Homo sapiens: one gene and its partners. The protein of the gene in region 1 interacts with the protein of each later gene in a biochemical or structural test. Each region holds a gene or a part of one and is shown in the gene's direction. Other genes may lie near its edges.

Region 1 (3,858 bases):
AAGAAAGGGTTGTTCTTTTTTGTTCATTTGGTATTTACAGGTTTTATTTTGGCGGAGGGGAGTAGGCAGGAGTTGAAGTGTGAACATTGGGTGTGGAGAGTCTAGTAATGAAAGAACCCCACATCCTGTACCCCAATATCACGCTGAAGAGCTTTGGTGAGTGTGGTTTGGTCTGCCTGGACGTTTCGGTCTGTTTCAGTCCTCCACCAGCATTGCCACCCAAGAAAAGACAGTCGGCGCCGTCCCCTACCCGAGTGGCTGTGGTGGCCCCCATGAGCCGAGCCACCAGTGGCTCCAGTTTGCCTGTTGGAATCAATAGGCAGGTAATGCAGCCCCTGTTCCCTGCATGGGAAGGCAGGGAGGGGGTGGGGGGCTCAGGGATGTGGCTCCTGAAGCTGAAAGAAACCCATGGTCTTCAGGCGCTGGTGTTTGTCACATCGAGGAGTGCGAGACCTTGTACCCATCCCTCTCTCTCCAGGACACGGTCCAAGTTCCCATATGGGGATAAGGGTCAGGGCAGGGAGGGCAGAGCCAAAGGGCGTCTCCTGGGGATAGGTGAGTCCAGCCCCAGGGCCCTCCCTGGCCACACCCCCCACAAACTCCAGATGGCTGCTTCTCAGCTGTATGTGTCCTTCGACTACTGACGTCAGAGGTGGTTTCTGAGTTCGCCTGGCAGTATTTCCTTCTCTAAGTAAATGCACCGGTTGCCTCACCCCTGGTCTGTGCCACCGTTTCTCAGAAGTGATTTGGCTTTGTTTTTCTTTTTCCACTTGAGGATTTTGATGTTGACTGTTACGCACAGAGGCGACTGTCAGGAGGCAGCCACTCATATGGTGGAGAGTCGCCCCGCCTCTCCCCCTGCAGCAGCATAGGCAAGCTCAGCAAGTCAGACGAGCAGCTGTCCTCTCTGGACAGGGACAGTGGGCAGTGCTCCCGGAACACAAGCTGTGAAACACTAGGTGAGCCGCCACCATCCTCCTGTTCCATCGTGTCTCGGTGGCTTCTCTGGGGCCATTACAGTCCTGGGTGGGAGTCCCAGGTCATGCAATCATTGACTACGTGGCTTTGGCTGACTTGTTTAAAATCTGAGCCTCAGCTTCCTCATCTGCAAAATATGGATAACAGTATCTGCCTCCCAAGGAAGTTGAGCATGTAAATGAAATCACAATGTAAAACCACAGCCTAGATATTCAAGCGGTGACTGTTAGTTCATCTGTCAGTGAGTAATTTGACTCTCTTTACCAAAATTAAGAGCCATTTGTGTTGAGAGCTTTAAACAAAGGGGTGGGGGTCCTGACAACACTTGACAGAGGCTGAAGGGGAGGGAGCCGCGCGAGCCGGCCTTCTCGTTAGTCAGTGCTGAATGTGTACTGTGCGGGCCCCTCCGAGTCTGCTGGGCAGGGGGCTTAGAGAGCAGGAAGCTGTTCGTATCCTGTGAACTAGATATTTTCACTTCTGAGAATGTATCCTAGGAGCATAATCAGTGATTAATAGCAAGATTTTCATTGGTAGGAAATCAGATGAATTATGGTACATTCATTTGCTGGAATAATCTGTAGCTATTAAAAATCACTCATATTGATAACTAGAAAAAGTACAGGACCATTTACATAGTATTCTCAATTGTTTCTTTTTTTTTTTTTTTTTTTTTTTTTTTTGAGACAGAGCCTCACTCTGTCACCCAGGCTGGAGTGTAGTGACATGATCTGGGCTCACTGCAACCTCCGCCTCCCGGGTTCAAGTGATTCTCCTGCCTCAGCCTCCCAAGCAGCTGGGATTACAGGTGTGTGCCACCACGCCCGGCTAATTTTTTTGTCTTTTTAGTAGAGACGGGATTTCACCATGTTGACCAGGCTGGTCTTGAACTCTAGGTGATCTGCCCACCTCAGCCTCCCAAAGTGGGCCAGCGTGCCCAGCCAATTTTTGTATTTTTAGTAGAGACGGGGTTTTGCCACATTGGCCAGGCTGGTATTGAACTCCTGGCCTCAACTGATCGGCCCGCCTCGGCCTCACAGAGTGCTGGGATTACAGGCGTGAGCCACCGCGTGGCCCTCAGTTAGGCTTTTTCAAAAAGGAATTGTATAGGCAAAAAAGTCATTTAAGGAAATACTTCAAAATGTAAATAGAAAGTACAGTTAGATTATGGTACTGTGGGTGATTTTTATTTTCTTGATGTAATTTGCCACAGTTTCCGTAATGGTTGTGTATTTTTTTTTTAAATAAGAAATGTAAAAAATAAAAGTATAGCAAACAGCCATATTCCCATCTGGTTTGCTTTTATAATCAGGGAGAAGAATGAAGAATATAACATGTGAATATAAAATAAGCCCTGGAGACAGGTCTTTGTCACACACCCATGAGCGAGCCGGCGAGAGGCGGGCGGGGGGAGCTGGCTGCTCCTGCAGGGCCTGTGGCTAACGGGTCTCTTTTTCCCCTGTTGTAACTGCAGACCACTATGATCCCGACTATGAATTCCTCCAGCAAGACCTCTCTAACGCAGACCAGATACCTCAGCAGACGGCCTGGAACCTTAGCCCGTTGCCAGAGTCTTTGGGGGAGTCTGGGTCTCCATTTCTTGGCCCTCCTTTCCAGCTGCCTCTTGGCGGCCATCCCCAGCCAGACGGACCTCTGGCCCCAGGGCAGCAGACAGATACGCCACCTGCTCTCCCCGAGAAGAAGCGCAGGAGCGCAGCCTCCCAGACGGCGGACGGCTCTGGCTGCAGGGTGTCCTACGAGCGGCATCCCTCGCAGTATGACAACATCTCTGGGGAGGACCTGCAGAGCACAGCCCCGATCCCATCCGTCCCCTACGCGCCCTTTGCTGCTATTCTGCCCTTTCAGCATGGAGGTTCCTCAGCCCCTGTCGAATTTGTGGGTGATTTTACTGCTCCTGAGTCAACCGGTGACCCAGAAAAACCACCTCCTCTACCAGAGAAGAAAAACAAACACAGTAAGCCTTTGTTGCACTGTTGTCAGGAAGTGCATTTTATAACCTGAAATGGCAGTATGTTTTATTTCAGCATTAGACCAGAATCAAATCAGTGGCCTCATTATTTCATAAAAGATAGGCCAGCCAGGTATGTGGACACTTCTGGGAGCCAGGTTTTGTCATTACACGTGATCATTTTTAAAGCCTCATCAGCTGACCTCTCCTTTACAGTTTCTATACAATCTCAGGTCCGGTCTCCATGTAGCCTGAGGGATTCTCCTCTTTAGATGGCAGCAGTTGACCTTCTGGCCTGATCACAGTGACAGAGGGGAACGAGTGTCCTGGCACGCAGGACAGCATTGCAGCAACATCTGTGTAGAGCGAGGTGGATACGTGAATTTCAGCAGAACTTGCCTAGTTTCCACAGAGTGATTGTCTAAGGATCCCTGTCTAGAGCACACTGTCTCTGTTCATGCTCCCAGAATGACTTGGAAGCTGGGGTTGCCCAGCAGGAGTAATTCAGCACACTTCTTGGACCAGACATTTTAATATATGATGTTATTGGAGCCCAGGGTTGGAGCTGAAGTTTTGAATATTTTCCAACGGTAAATCTGTCATAAAAGTAATAAGGAGAGTTCTCCTGGAAATTCGGTTTTCTCCTAGCTCCCCTAACTGCTCCACACTTCTGGGACTTGCCTGGCCCCCTCTGTCCCCGCCCTCTCCCTGCTTCACTAGCATAGTTCTGCTTCGATTTTCTTGGCAGCACAGCTGTCACCGTTTCAATGTGTGTGGTCACATTAGCCACACAGCCCCAGGCTTCCCTGGCCTCAGTTGACACATCCAGCAGAGAACTTCTATGACCTAGAAATGGAATCTCTACTCCAAATTCCCAAATGAGAGCTTCTGAGCCCAGCTTAGAGCTGGGCCCC
Region 2 (3,858 bases), on another chromosome or scaffold:
TCACCACCACCCTATGAGGTAGAACCCTTGCCACCCTTTCTCAGAGATGGCCTTGGATTGTGAATGAACACAGGTCTTCTGAGACCCCTCCCTCGGGACCCTGTGGCCATCTTGAATATGTACATTGATCACGTAAGTGAAGCATACAAGGTGCTCAACGCGCATGGATTGGAAATCACAAGACTCACAGCTGCAGATCAGTGGGTGCCCAGAGAGGTAGAGTGAGCTGCCCTACCTCACACAGTGCTGCTCTTCCCAGAACATCTTTATGCTGACCAAAACACACGAAATGTGATATAATTTTATGTCATATATGTCACACAAGATGCCCGTTTAATTTCCCAGAACTGTAATACACATTTATCTCAAAGAGAGATGCTGGTTTCAGTTTTAAATGCATGCAAGTACATTATAAATCTGTGCTTAATTATGATAATTTTTCAAATTAATGATCCAGCACTCCAAGAGTCTGAATGTGTTCCTTATTTTATTTCCAAAAGACAAACAAAGCAAAACCGCTCAAGTCTTGAGGTGGCAAATCTTTCCCAGTTCCCACCAGAAGAGGTAAATCCTTGTAAATAAAAGGAATCTTTTTTCATTTTTAAAAGTAACTCATCTAAGCCTAGGAGTTTGGGGTTTTTTTCCTTAAACCACAAATACATGTTTATTTTAACAAGATAAGTATAACTGAGTTCTAACTGCTTTAGAAGAAAATGGCAATTGTGCAGAGATGAGAAAAGCAAGCACTTCCTTATGTGGTTGTCACAGCCTGCCTTCTCAGCAAATGTGTGTGCACATTTTGAGAAAAGAAATGAAACATTTCTTCCACTTTTACAATTATGTTTTGACTCTACTTGGAGTAAATGTGTTTTGTTTAAGCATCCTTAAATTAATTCAATACAGCAGCAAAGTCTGCAAGCTCTACCTCCAAAATGTCCCCCAAACCTGTCCAATGCTTACCTCCTCTCTGCCCCCACACTACCCTGGGCCACCATCATCTCATACCTGAACAATTTTGGCAGATTTCTCACAGGGTTCCCTCCCCTGCTCCCCACTGTCCACGCCTCACTCAGCCACCGGTGGGATTATTTAAAGTGCAAATTGAATCCCATCATTCTCCTGCCAGAAACTTTCCATCATCCTTAGAATAAAATCCAAAGTCCTTACTGGCCCTACAGGATATGGTGGCCTTGTCACAACCACCCTCTTCCCTGCCCATGAGCTTCAGCTACACTCTCCTGCTTTCAGTGCCTCCAACTTCTCTCTAAGCACATGCCAGCCTCAGGGCCTTTGCATTTGCTGTTCCCTCTGCCTGGAACACTCTTCCCTCAGAGTGTCCCCTCACTGGCTCCTTTGTGTCATTTAGACCGCAGGTTCTGTATCCCTTTCTCTGACAGGCCTTCCCCAAATGCCCTGCCTAAAAGAGCCAGACCTGTTGTTCCCCACAGCATCCTCTCTTATTGTCCTCACACTTTTCATTAACTCAATTTGCCCTGTTATTTATTTGTTGGCCTGTTTATTGTCTCTGTCTCCCATTCGGCTGCAGTTGAGGTCCTGAGGGCGTGAACTTGCTTCTCTTCTTCACAGTTTAGAAAAGTGCCCAGTAAATCTTGGCTGTGTAAATGGATGAATGAATTACCAAACAACTCAGAGAGAGACAGAGAGAAAGAGAGGAGGAAGAGGAAGAGGAAGAAGACGAAGAAAGAGGAGGAGGAGGGAGGACAGAGGAGGGGGAAGGAGGAGGAGGGGAAGGAGGAGGAGGGGGAAGGAAGAGGAGGGGGAGCAGGAAGGAAGGGAGGGAGGGAGGGAGGGAAGGAGTTATAAGCAATTTATAAATTGATACCAGTAATACGGTGCCTTGACAAACTAGATTGTTTGAGCCATGTTATGTGACCTCATCTTGTTATTTAATATAAAAATGGCAATTTATCATCTGATAATACTGCAGTTTTTCTGTAGTGTTTGCTCTGAGCCTGACACTGCACTGAGTATTTCCCCACTGTAGGTCATATTATTGTCCCCATTTTGCCGATGAAGACCTGAGAGGTGGGTAGGGGCAGGAAAGTGGTCAGTGAGGTGCTGGTGGGGTGGAGGGGCCAAGGATCAGCTGAGGCTTTCTGACCTGAGAGCTGGCAGTGCCCACCCAACAGCTCTACCTGTTACATTTCTGTTATCCTCATGCCATCCTCTGAATAAACATCCATCACGCTGGTCCTTGGTACCCACGACAATGACAGCTTGTCAGCCCTGGGCCAGTGCTGTGGCACGTGGACATGGGGAAGCCCAGAGGTGGCAAGGATGGAGTGGGTTCCATGTGGGGAGGATAAGGGTGCATGGAGCTGGCAGGGGAGTTAAGACCGGGAAGGCCAGTGGGAGCCAGCCCGGGGGCAGGGGACCTGGAATGCCAGCATCAGAAGACTTCCCCGCATGAGGCTCTTGGTAACTGGGGCTCACCTCCCTTCTGTCTGCTGCAGGATGGGGTGCATGAAGTCCAAGTTCCTCCAGGTCGGAGGCAATACATTCTCAAAAACTGAAACCAGCGCCAGCCCACACTGTCCTGTGTACGTGCCGGATCCCACATCCACCATCAAGCCGGTGAGTAGGGGAGGTCCCAGTTTCCCTGGGGGCTGACGGATGCTGCCCCAACATTGCCCTAACAGCCTCCTGTCTTCCCAAGGTTGGGCAGGGTGAGCTTGGGGTGAAAGGGAGCTGACTGGCCACCAACAGTGTCCTGACTCGACTCTCCGGGACGCAGCGCCAGCCAGCATGCATAGGGGCAAAGAAGTCATCTCTCTTTCCTGCAGCCCAGGCTTGGCCCCTCAGCCTGAGCTCCACCAAACAGGTGTGAGTGAGCATCTCAGGCCTCCGGCCTGGGCAGAAGCAAAAGCAGTGCTGAGAAACGAGTGAACAGTAATGATAGCAGCTGAAGTGACAATGTAATGGTAGTATCAGCAGCATTGCAAAAATACAGTAACAATTGTCATACTAATAGTACCAACCATAATTGCGTGAGTATAAGACCAAGAGTAGCAGCAGGAACAACAGCAAGAGTTGTAAAAAGAGAAGCAGTCATGCTAGGAGAGGTATTTACCAACTTCTTTTATGTTTATACAAAGCTGACTATGAACCCAGCACTGTTGTAAGCCTTTACGGTTATTAACACCCTAATCCTCACAATAATCCTATTGTGTGACACACAAATACATTCTTCTTGAAAATAAAAACACAGGCCAGGTGCAGTGGCTCACACTTGTACTCCCAGCATTTTGGGAGGCTGAGGCAGGAGGATTACTTGAGCCCAGGAGTTCGAACTGCATGAGCTATGATCACGCCACTGCACTCCAGCCTGGGCAATACAGGGAGACCCTGTCTCTTTAAAAAAAAAAAAAAAAAAAAAAAAAAAGAGCTGCTTAGAATGCCATAGTTTAGGTGTCACTTCCCCCTTGCATGGACACTTAGATTGTTTCACATACATAACAGAGCCTTTATTTATGGAATATAAATCACTGGTGGGCCTGTGATTTCTCCAAACTTAGTCGGAAAACACTGATCTGGACCGACCCCTTCACTGTGTGTTGAGGGGAGGGGTCAAGCAGCATCCCCCGGTACATCCAAGACCGAAGGCCGAGGTCACAGCTCAAGAAACCTGGATCCTGGCTGGGCACAGTGGCTCACTCCTGTAATCCCAGCACTTTGGGAGGTCAGGAGTTCTAGACCAGCCGGGCCAACATGGTGAAACCCCATCTCTACTAAAAATACAAAATTAGCCAGGCATGGTGGCATGCGCCTGTAATCCCAGCTACTTGGGAGGCTGAGGCAGGAGAATCACTTGAACCCGAGAGGTGGAGGTTTCGGTGA
Region 3 (3,858 bases), on another chromosome or scaffold:
CACACACACACACAAAAATTAGCCAGGCATGGTGGTGTGCACCTGTAGTCCCAGCTACTTGGGAGGCTAAGGCAGGAGGATGGCTTGAGCCAAGGAGTTTGAGGCTGAAGTGAACCATGATTGCTCCACTGCACTTCAGCCTGGGCAATAGAGCGAGACTCTGTCTCAAATAATAAAAGTAAATAGGCTGGGCGCAGTGGCTCACGCCTGTAATCCCAGCACTTTGGGAGGGCAAAGTGGGCGGATCACCTGAGGTCGGGAGTTCAAGACCATCCTGGGCAACATGGCGAAATCCTGTCTCTATTAAAAATAGAAAAATCAGCTGGTCATGGTTACAGGCACCTGTAATCCCAGCTACTTGGGAGGCTGAGGCAGGAGAATCGCTTGAACCCAGGAGGTGGAGGTTGCAGTGAGCGGAGATCACGCCACTGCACTCCAGCCTGAGGGATAGAGCAAGACTCTGTCTCCAAAAAATAAATAAAAATAAATAAAAGTTGTCAATAGATTACCAAAGAACTCACCAAAAAGATTGAGCTGAGCTCATTAATTCCTTGCTGTAGTGTGGGTTCTGTGGTGATTTTATTATTATAATGTAACACCAAGCCACATTGTCAGTTAGTAACTTCTCAAAATGTTGAGTCAGTGGACACCGGGTAGGGTAAAAAGTCTTTGTGCCTGGTGCGGTGGCTCATACCTGTAATCCCAGCACTTTGGGAGGCCAAGGCAGGCAGATCTGTTGAGCTTAGGAGTTTGAGACCAGCCTGGGCAGCATAGGGAGACCCCATCTCTACAAAAAAAAATGAGTAGGCTATGGTGGCTGGTGCCTGTAGTCCCCACTAAGGAGGCTGAGGTGAGAGGATCCCTTGAGCCCAGGAGGCGGAGGTTGCAGTAAACCAAGATCACGCCACTGCCCTCCAGCCTTTGCTACAGAGTGAGACCCTTTCTGAAAAATAAATAAATAAATAAAAGTGTGTTTACTCAAAGTATTGCAGATTGGATTTTATAAATATTTTTAAAATTTGCCAATTAGTATATGAAAACTCTGATTGTTTTAATTTGCATTTCTTTTCATATGTTTTAAATAGAGTAACATTTAAAATTTCTTTTGAAGGCTGGGTGCAGTGGCTCATGCCTGTAATCCCAGCACTTTGGGAGGCTGAGGTGGGAGTTTGAGACCAGCCTGGCCAACATGGCGAAACCCCATCTCTACTAAAAATGCAAAAGTTAGCCAGGCTTGGTGGCGCGCACCTGTAGTCCCAGCTACTTGGGAGGTCGAGGCAGGAGAATTGCTTGATCCTAGGAGGCGGAGGTTGCAGTGACCTGAGATCGTGACACTGCAGTCCAGCCTGGGCGACAGAGCTAGATGCTGTCTCAAAAAATAAATAAATAAATAAATAAATAAATAAATAAATAAATTTTGAGTGATTATTACATGTCGGGCTCTATCCAGAGCACTTAATGTATGTTATATATGTTGTCTAATTTAATCCTCAGTGGATCTTATAAGGTAGATATTCTCATTTTACAGATGAGAAAACTGGAGCTTGTTTCACAACTTTGCCCACAACTGTAGCTGTAAGTGTGAGGGGCCTGCCTCTAGAGACCATGAAGATTCAACACTAAGCTATACTGGACTGTTGTCATGTATTTTATTTTCTGTGAATTTTGGGAAGAAGAGAGTTAAATGGAAGAAAGAAAAAAAATCTTGCAAATACCTTTAGGATAGTAGTTTTTTTGGATACAGTAGACATTGTTTGAAATGAATGATTAAAGCTGTACTTACCTTTCTTAAAATTCACTGCTTGGGATGGGCTGGTAACAGTTTCGAGGTTACTCTCATTAGGCTTCAGTGTTAAGTACACTATACCCCATTTTCTTGGGAAGTGAACAGCAACATCTACTCTGTTAAAATCATTATACATTGTGTCTGCTTTCAGATTTCTTCCTTTTAGTAATTAGTGTTGTGTATGTGTTAGATTTTTTTTTGTCTTTACTGAAACACACCCTTTGGAATTCCTTTAGCGAATATGCTCTTTTGGGTGGATAACCTAATAAGCTTTCCTCTTTGAGTTTTCTGTTTTTTTACTCAGCACAGCCATGGAAGTAGGGATTTAATTTTCTGTCAAACTCTGCATCTCACAAAGCAATAGTTACTCAAAACACGACTTTCAAGAAGGTTATTCTTTTTAAGCTTTCAGCAGATGAGCTGAGTAGCAGCAGGAAAGCAGGTATTGAGAACTGTCTTGGTTTTTGTACTGCTGTTGAGTAGTAACATTGCAGCTGTCTTAAATCCTGAATGACACAGAAGCTTATGGCTGGTCGTACTACATAGCACCTTGAAAGTGACAGGGCTTTTCATTTCTATCTGATTTCTGTTTTTCAAAAATAAAACTCCTTATTCTTTTCCTATCATTGTAAATATTCTTCAGCTTCCTATCACTAATACATAGTCTCGGCATTAGAGACCAGTTAAAATAAATAGGCTGAGGAAAATCTTGATAGTAGGAGAGATTTTGGAGCATTCATTAAAAGTAAAAATAGGGCTGGGCGTGGTGGCTCACTCTCCCCTGTATTCCTAGCACTTTGGGAGGCCGAGGCAGGCAGATTGCTTGAGGCCAGGAGTTTGAGACCAGCCTGGGTCTTAAAAGGTAGATATTATTCTCATTTTACAGATGACGAAACTGGAGCTTGTTTGAAAAGTTTGCCCAAAATTGTAGCAGTTAGCGTGAGGGGCCTGCCTCTAGAGACCATGCAAATTCAACACTAAGCTATACTGGACTGGTCTCACATAGTGAGACCCTGTCTCTACAAAAAATAGAAAAAGTAGCCGGGCATAGTGGCCCACACCTGTAGTTCCAGCTACTTGGGAAGCTGAGGCATGAGGATTACTTGAGCCAAGGAGATCAAGGATGCAGTAAGCCATGACCATGCCACTGCACTCGTGCCTGGACAACAGTGCAAGACCCTGTCTCAAAAAAAAAGAGAAAAGAAAAAGTAAAAGTAGATACACAGGGAACTAGGCAAGTAAAAAATAGAACATTAAGCAGTTGCTAATGCTGGGAAAAATCTAAGGATTGTACAAAAAAGTATGATTGGGTCAGGCACAGCGGCCGATGCCTGTAATCCCAGCACTTGGGGAGGCCAAAGTGGGCGGATCACTTGAGGCCAGGAGTTCAAGACCAGCCTGGCCAACATGGTGAAATCCCGTCTCTACTAAAAATATAAAAAGTAGCCAGGCTTGTTGGCACATGCCTGTAGTCCCAGCTACAGGCCGAGGTAGGAGGATCGCTTGAACCTGGGAGGTGGAGGTTGCAATGAGCCGAGATCATGCCACTGCACTCTAGCCTGGGCAATCTTAGAGAACTCTATCTCAAAAAAGAAAAAAAAAAAAACACAAAAAGTATGATTGGTTTTAGTGCATTATTTAAATTATCAGTGAGTAGTATTTCATAACATACTACTGATTAAACCAGAATATGTGATATTACTGGTATAGGTCGGGGGAAACTAAATCTTCACCTTTCAGGCAATAGATAATGGCTGGAATAAACTGAGAAAGCAGTAAAAGCACATTCTTTAGAAATACTCTATCCATTTTGTGCATTGACCACAAGATTTAAAAAAAGAAAAATAAGTAAATACAAAGAGAAAGCAAAAAACAAAATCGAGAGTGATCGCCTGTGGGTGTTGGTAGGGAGCTGCTCTTTTTCATAAGCCTTTTAATACTCTGACTTTTAAAATTATGTACACGGATTAGTTTGATCAAAGTAACTACAGAGAGTGTAAGTGAAGGGCATTTAAGGATACACAAGTATAAATATTCGCAGATCAACCTCTGTATTTTTTAATATTTGCTGG
Region 4 (3,858 bases), on another chromosome or scaffold:
GCTAATTTTTGTATTTTTAGTAGAGATGGGGTTTCACCATATTGGACCAGGCTGGTCTCAAACTCCTGACCTCAGGTGATCCAATTGCCTCGGCCCCCTAATGTGCTGGGATTACAGGCATGAGCCAGTCACCACGCCCAGCTGGAATTAAGTTTTCTACCTTTTTTTTTTTTTTTTTAACTGTGAAATATTTCATACATAGAAAAGAGTAAGGGTGCCGTGGCTCACGCCTGTAATCTCAGCACATTGGGAAGCCAAGACAGGTGGATCACTTGAGGTCAGGAGTTCGAGACCAGCCTGGCCAACGTGGTGAAACCCTGTCTCTACTAAAAAGACAAAAATTAGCCGGGCGTGGTGGTAGATGCCTGTAATCCCAGCTACTTGGGACGCTGAGGCAGGATAATTGTTTGAACCCGGGAGGTGGAGGTTGCAATGAGTTGAGATCGCACCATTGCACTCCAGTCTGGGTAACAGAGCAAGACTCTGTCTCAAAAAAAAAAAAAAAAAAAAAAAAGGAAAAAGAGTAAGCCTGGGCACGTTGGCTCATGTCTGTAATCCCAGCACTTTGGGAGGCCGAGGGAGGCAGATCACTTGAGGTCAGGAGTTTAAGACCAGCCTGGCCAGCATGTGAAACCCATCTCTGTTAAAAATACAAAATTAGCCCGGCAGTAGTGGGGCCCTGTAATCCCAGCTACTGGGGAGGCTTAGGCACAAGAATAGCTTGAACCCAGGAGGCAGAGGTTTTGGTGAGCTGAGATCACACCACTACACTCCAGCCTGGGCAATAGAGTGAGACTCTGTCTCAAAAAAAAAGTATATGTAAGCTGGGTGTGGTGGCATGCACCTGTAGTCCCAAATAGTGGGGAGGCTGAGGTAGGAGGATTGCTTGAGCCCAGGAGTTCAAGACCAGCCTGGGCAACATAAACCCCCATCTCTGCAAAAAATTAAACAAGGATTGGCTGGGCATGGTGGCTCATGCCTGTAGTCCCAGCTACATGGGAGGCTGAGGTGGGAGGATCACTTGAGCCTGGGAGGTCAAGGCTATAGTGAGCCATGATCGTACTGCTGCACTCCAGCCTGGGCCATAGAGCAAGACGCTATCTCAAAAAAATTTACAAAACAAGCCAAAAAAAACTATCATCTGTGTGCTCCCTTTAAAAAATAAATAAATAAAACATTGGCCAGGCGTGGTGGCCCAGACTGTAATCCCAGGACTTTGGGAGGCTGAGGTGGGAAGATTGCTTGAGCTCAGGAGTTCAAGACCAGCTTAGACAACATGGCAAGACCCTGTTTCTACCAAAAATACAAAAATTAATCGGATGTGGTGGCATGCACCTGTAGTCCCAGCTACACAGAAGGCTGAGGTGGGAGGATCGCTTGAGCCTTGGAGGTTGAGGCTGCAATGAGCCATGATTGTGCCTCTGCACTCTAGCTCGGGCAACAGAACGAGATCCCATCTCAAAAAAAAAAAAAAAAAAAAAAAAAGGAATATTACCAGCACCTTTGAAACTTCCTTTTTCTAGAAGTTGATTGTATTGGTTCTTAGCATGCATAAGGAGATTTTAAGCTTAGAACATATTAGCACTTGGTTTAAAGATGTTTTGTGTATGGTTTATACATGTAGAAACTGAGAACGCTTTTAACCAAAAGAGCTGAGAGATTCGTTATCATCAGAAAAGAAAAGTCAGTTACGAATTAGTTGTTAGGGGCTTTGCTGCTCAAAGTGTGTAGTGGACAATAGGCAAAAAGTGAGAAGCATGGTCAAGGGTGTTTGGATGGGCTTGAAAACCCTGTGCATTTTATTTTATTTTATTTTATTTATTTATTTTTGAGTCGGAGTCTCACTCTGTTACCCAGACTGGAGTGCAGTGGCGCGATCTCGGCTCACTGCAAGCTCTGCCTCCCGGGTTCACACCATTCTCCTGCCTCAGCCTCCCGAGTAGCTGGGACTACAGGCGCCTGCCACCACGCTCAGCTAATTTTTTTGTATTTTTAGTAGAGATGGGGTTTCACTGTGTTAGCCAGGATGGTCTCGATCTCCTGACCTCTTGATCCGCCCGCCTTGGCCTCCCAAAGTGCTGGGATTACAGGCGTGAGCCACTGCACCTGCCTTATCTATTTAATTTTTTGAGACGGAATCTCTGTCTGTCGCCCAGGCTGGAGTGCAGTGGCATGATCTCAGCTCACTGCAACCTCCGCCTCCCGGGTTCAAGCAATTCTCTTGCCTCAGCCTCCCAAGTAGCTGGGCCTACAGGCACACGCCACCACACCTGGCTAATTTTTGTATTTTAATAGTGACAGGGTTTTGTCATGTTGGCCAGGTTGGTCTCAAACTCCTGACCTCATGATCCACCTGCCTCGGCCTTCCAAAGTGCTAGGATTGCAGGCATGAGCCACTGCGCCTGGGCAACACTTTATATTTTAAAGGGAAGTTGGGGGAGGGTGCTATTTTCAACCTTGCTCAAAGAACAAATAATTGGGAAGCAATAAATTTTCTGATGAATATGCTTCATATTTCTTTAGACAGTGGGGTCTAATGGAAAGGCTAAGATATCTGACATGGAGCAACATGTATTTATCTCTTCAGTGGAACTAATGTGTAATTTTCAGGGGAGTTTGATGAATAAATGAGTTTGAGAATATAGGGCAGAGGACTTGGAATTTGTGTCAGGGTTATGGCTGGTGAGATTGATTTGGTGTCAAATTTATGAATATCTCTGCAGATACTAACACAGAAAATGAGCCCCAAGGTCACTATAGCAGTATAGTAGTGGAGGGAAATAGAAACTATCTTTATCAAATTTCTACACAGACATACCCCTCACCAGGGAAGCAAGGAAGTTGAAAAGCACACTTTGCCTCCCTAACCCAGGAATTTAGATGGGGGATCAGCAAACTGTTGAGTAAAGGGTCAGATTTTAAATATTTTCAGCTTTTCCATAGAGTCTCTGTCCAACTACTCAACTATGCCTTTGTAGTGAAAAACAGTCATAGACAATACGTAAATGAATGGGCTTGGCTATCTTCTTTTTTTTGTTTGTTTTTAAGATGGAGTCTTGCTCTGTCACCCAGGCTGGAGTGCAGTGGTGTGATCTCAGCTCATTGCAACCTCTGCCTCCCAGGTTCAAGCAATTCTCTTCCCTCGGCCTCCCAAGTAGCTGGGCCTACAGGCGCACGCCACCACACCTGGCTAACTTTTGTATTTTTAGTAGTGACAGGGTTTTTTGTCATGTTGGCCAGGTTGGTCTTGAACTCCTGACCTCAAGTGATCCTCCCGCCTCGGCCTCCCAGTGTTGGGATTACAGGCGTGAGCCACCACACGCCTGGCTTTTTTTTTTTTTTTTTTTTTTTTTTTTTGAGATAGAGTCTTAACTGTTTCAGGCAGTGACGTGATCTTGGCTCACTGCAAGCTCCGCCTCCCGGGTTTACACCATTCTCCTGCCTCAGCCTCCCGAGTGGCTGGGACTACAGGCGTGTGCCACCACACCTGGCTAATTTTTTGTATTTTTAGTAGAGAGACAGGGTTTCACCGTGTTAGCCAGGATGGTCTCAATCTCCTGACCTTGTGATCCGTCCACCTCAGCCTCCCAAAGTGCTGGGATTACAGGCGTGAGCCACCACACACTGGCTAACTGCTTTTAACTATACAAATAATAAAATACTCTTGGATGGAGTCTAAGGTGGAACTGACTGTGCTCTTAATAGTGTCTGAAATTTATATGGTACTTACTGGACTGTTCACAGGCTCTCTGTGGCTCTTGAAATAGCAGGGGCTGGGTGTGATGGCTCACACCTGTAATCCCAACACTTTGGGAGGCCAAGGCGAGAGAATTGCTTGAGGCTAGAAGTTCAAGACAA

What was found. Proteins that work in one complex are often made in the same cells at the same time.
Region 2: the proteins of RAPGEF1 (region 1) and HCK form a complex in vitro, tested with the Homo sapiens proteins (one study listed by BioGRID).
Region 3: the proteins of RAPGEF1 (region 1) and GRB2 form a complex in vitro, tested with the Homo sapiens proteins (2 studies listed by BioGRID and IntAct, with this or other methods).
Region 4: the proteins of RAPGEF1 (region 1) and CRKL form a complex in vitro, tested with the Homo sapiens proteins (one study listed by BioGRID).

What each region holds. Positions count from the first base shown.
Region 1 is NC_000009.12:131,625,014-131,628,871, reverse strand, and holds part of RAPGEF1 (rap guanine nucleotide exchange factor 1), read left to right. Parts: intron 1-199; coding exon 200-323; intron 324-775; coding exon 776-959; intron 960-2,449; coding exon 2,450-2,950; intron 2,951-3,858. UniProt on the Homo sapiens protein: Guanine nucleotide-releasing protein that binds to SH3 domain of CRK and GRB2/ASH. Transduces signals from CRK to activate RAS. Involved in cell branching and adhesion mediated by BCAR1-CRK-RAPGEF1 signaling and activation of RAP1.
Region 2 is NC_000020.11:32,069,188-32,073,045, forward strand, and holds part of HCK (tyrosine-protein kinase HCK), read left to right. Parts: intron 1-500; exon of another isoform or gene 501-564; intron 565-2,474; coding exon 2,475-2,595; intron 2,596-3,858. UniProt on the Homo sapiens protein: Non-receptor tyrosine-protein kinase found in hematopoietic cells that transmits signals from cell surface receptors and plays an important role in the regulation of innate immune responses, including neutrophil, monocyte, macrophage and mast cell functions, phagocytosis, cell survival and proliferation, cell adhesion and migration.
Region 3 is NC_000017.11:75,395,375-75,399,232, reverse strand, and holds part of GRB2 (growth factor receptor-bound protein 2), read left to right. Parts: intron 1-3,820; exon of another isoform or gene 3,821-3,858. UniProt on the Homo sapiens protein: Non-enzymatic adapter protein that plays a pivotal role in precisely regulated signaling cascades from cell surface receptors to cellular responses, including signaling transduction and gene expression.
Region 4 is NC_000022.11:20,927,353-20,931,210, forward strand, and holds part of CRKL (crk-like protein), read left to right. Parts: intron 1-3,858. UniProt on the Homo sapiens protein: May mediate the transduction of intracellular signals.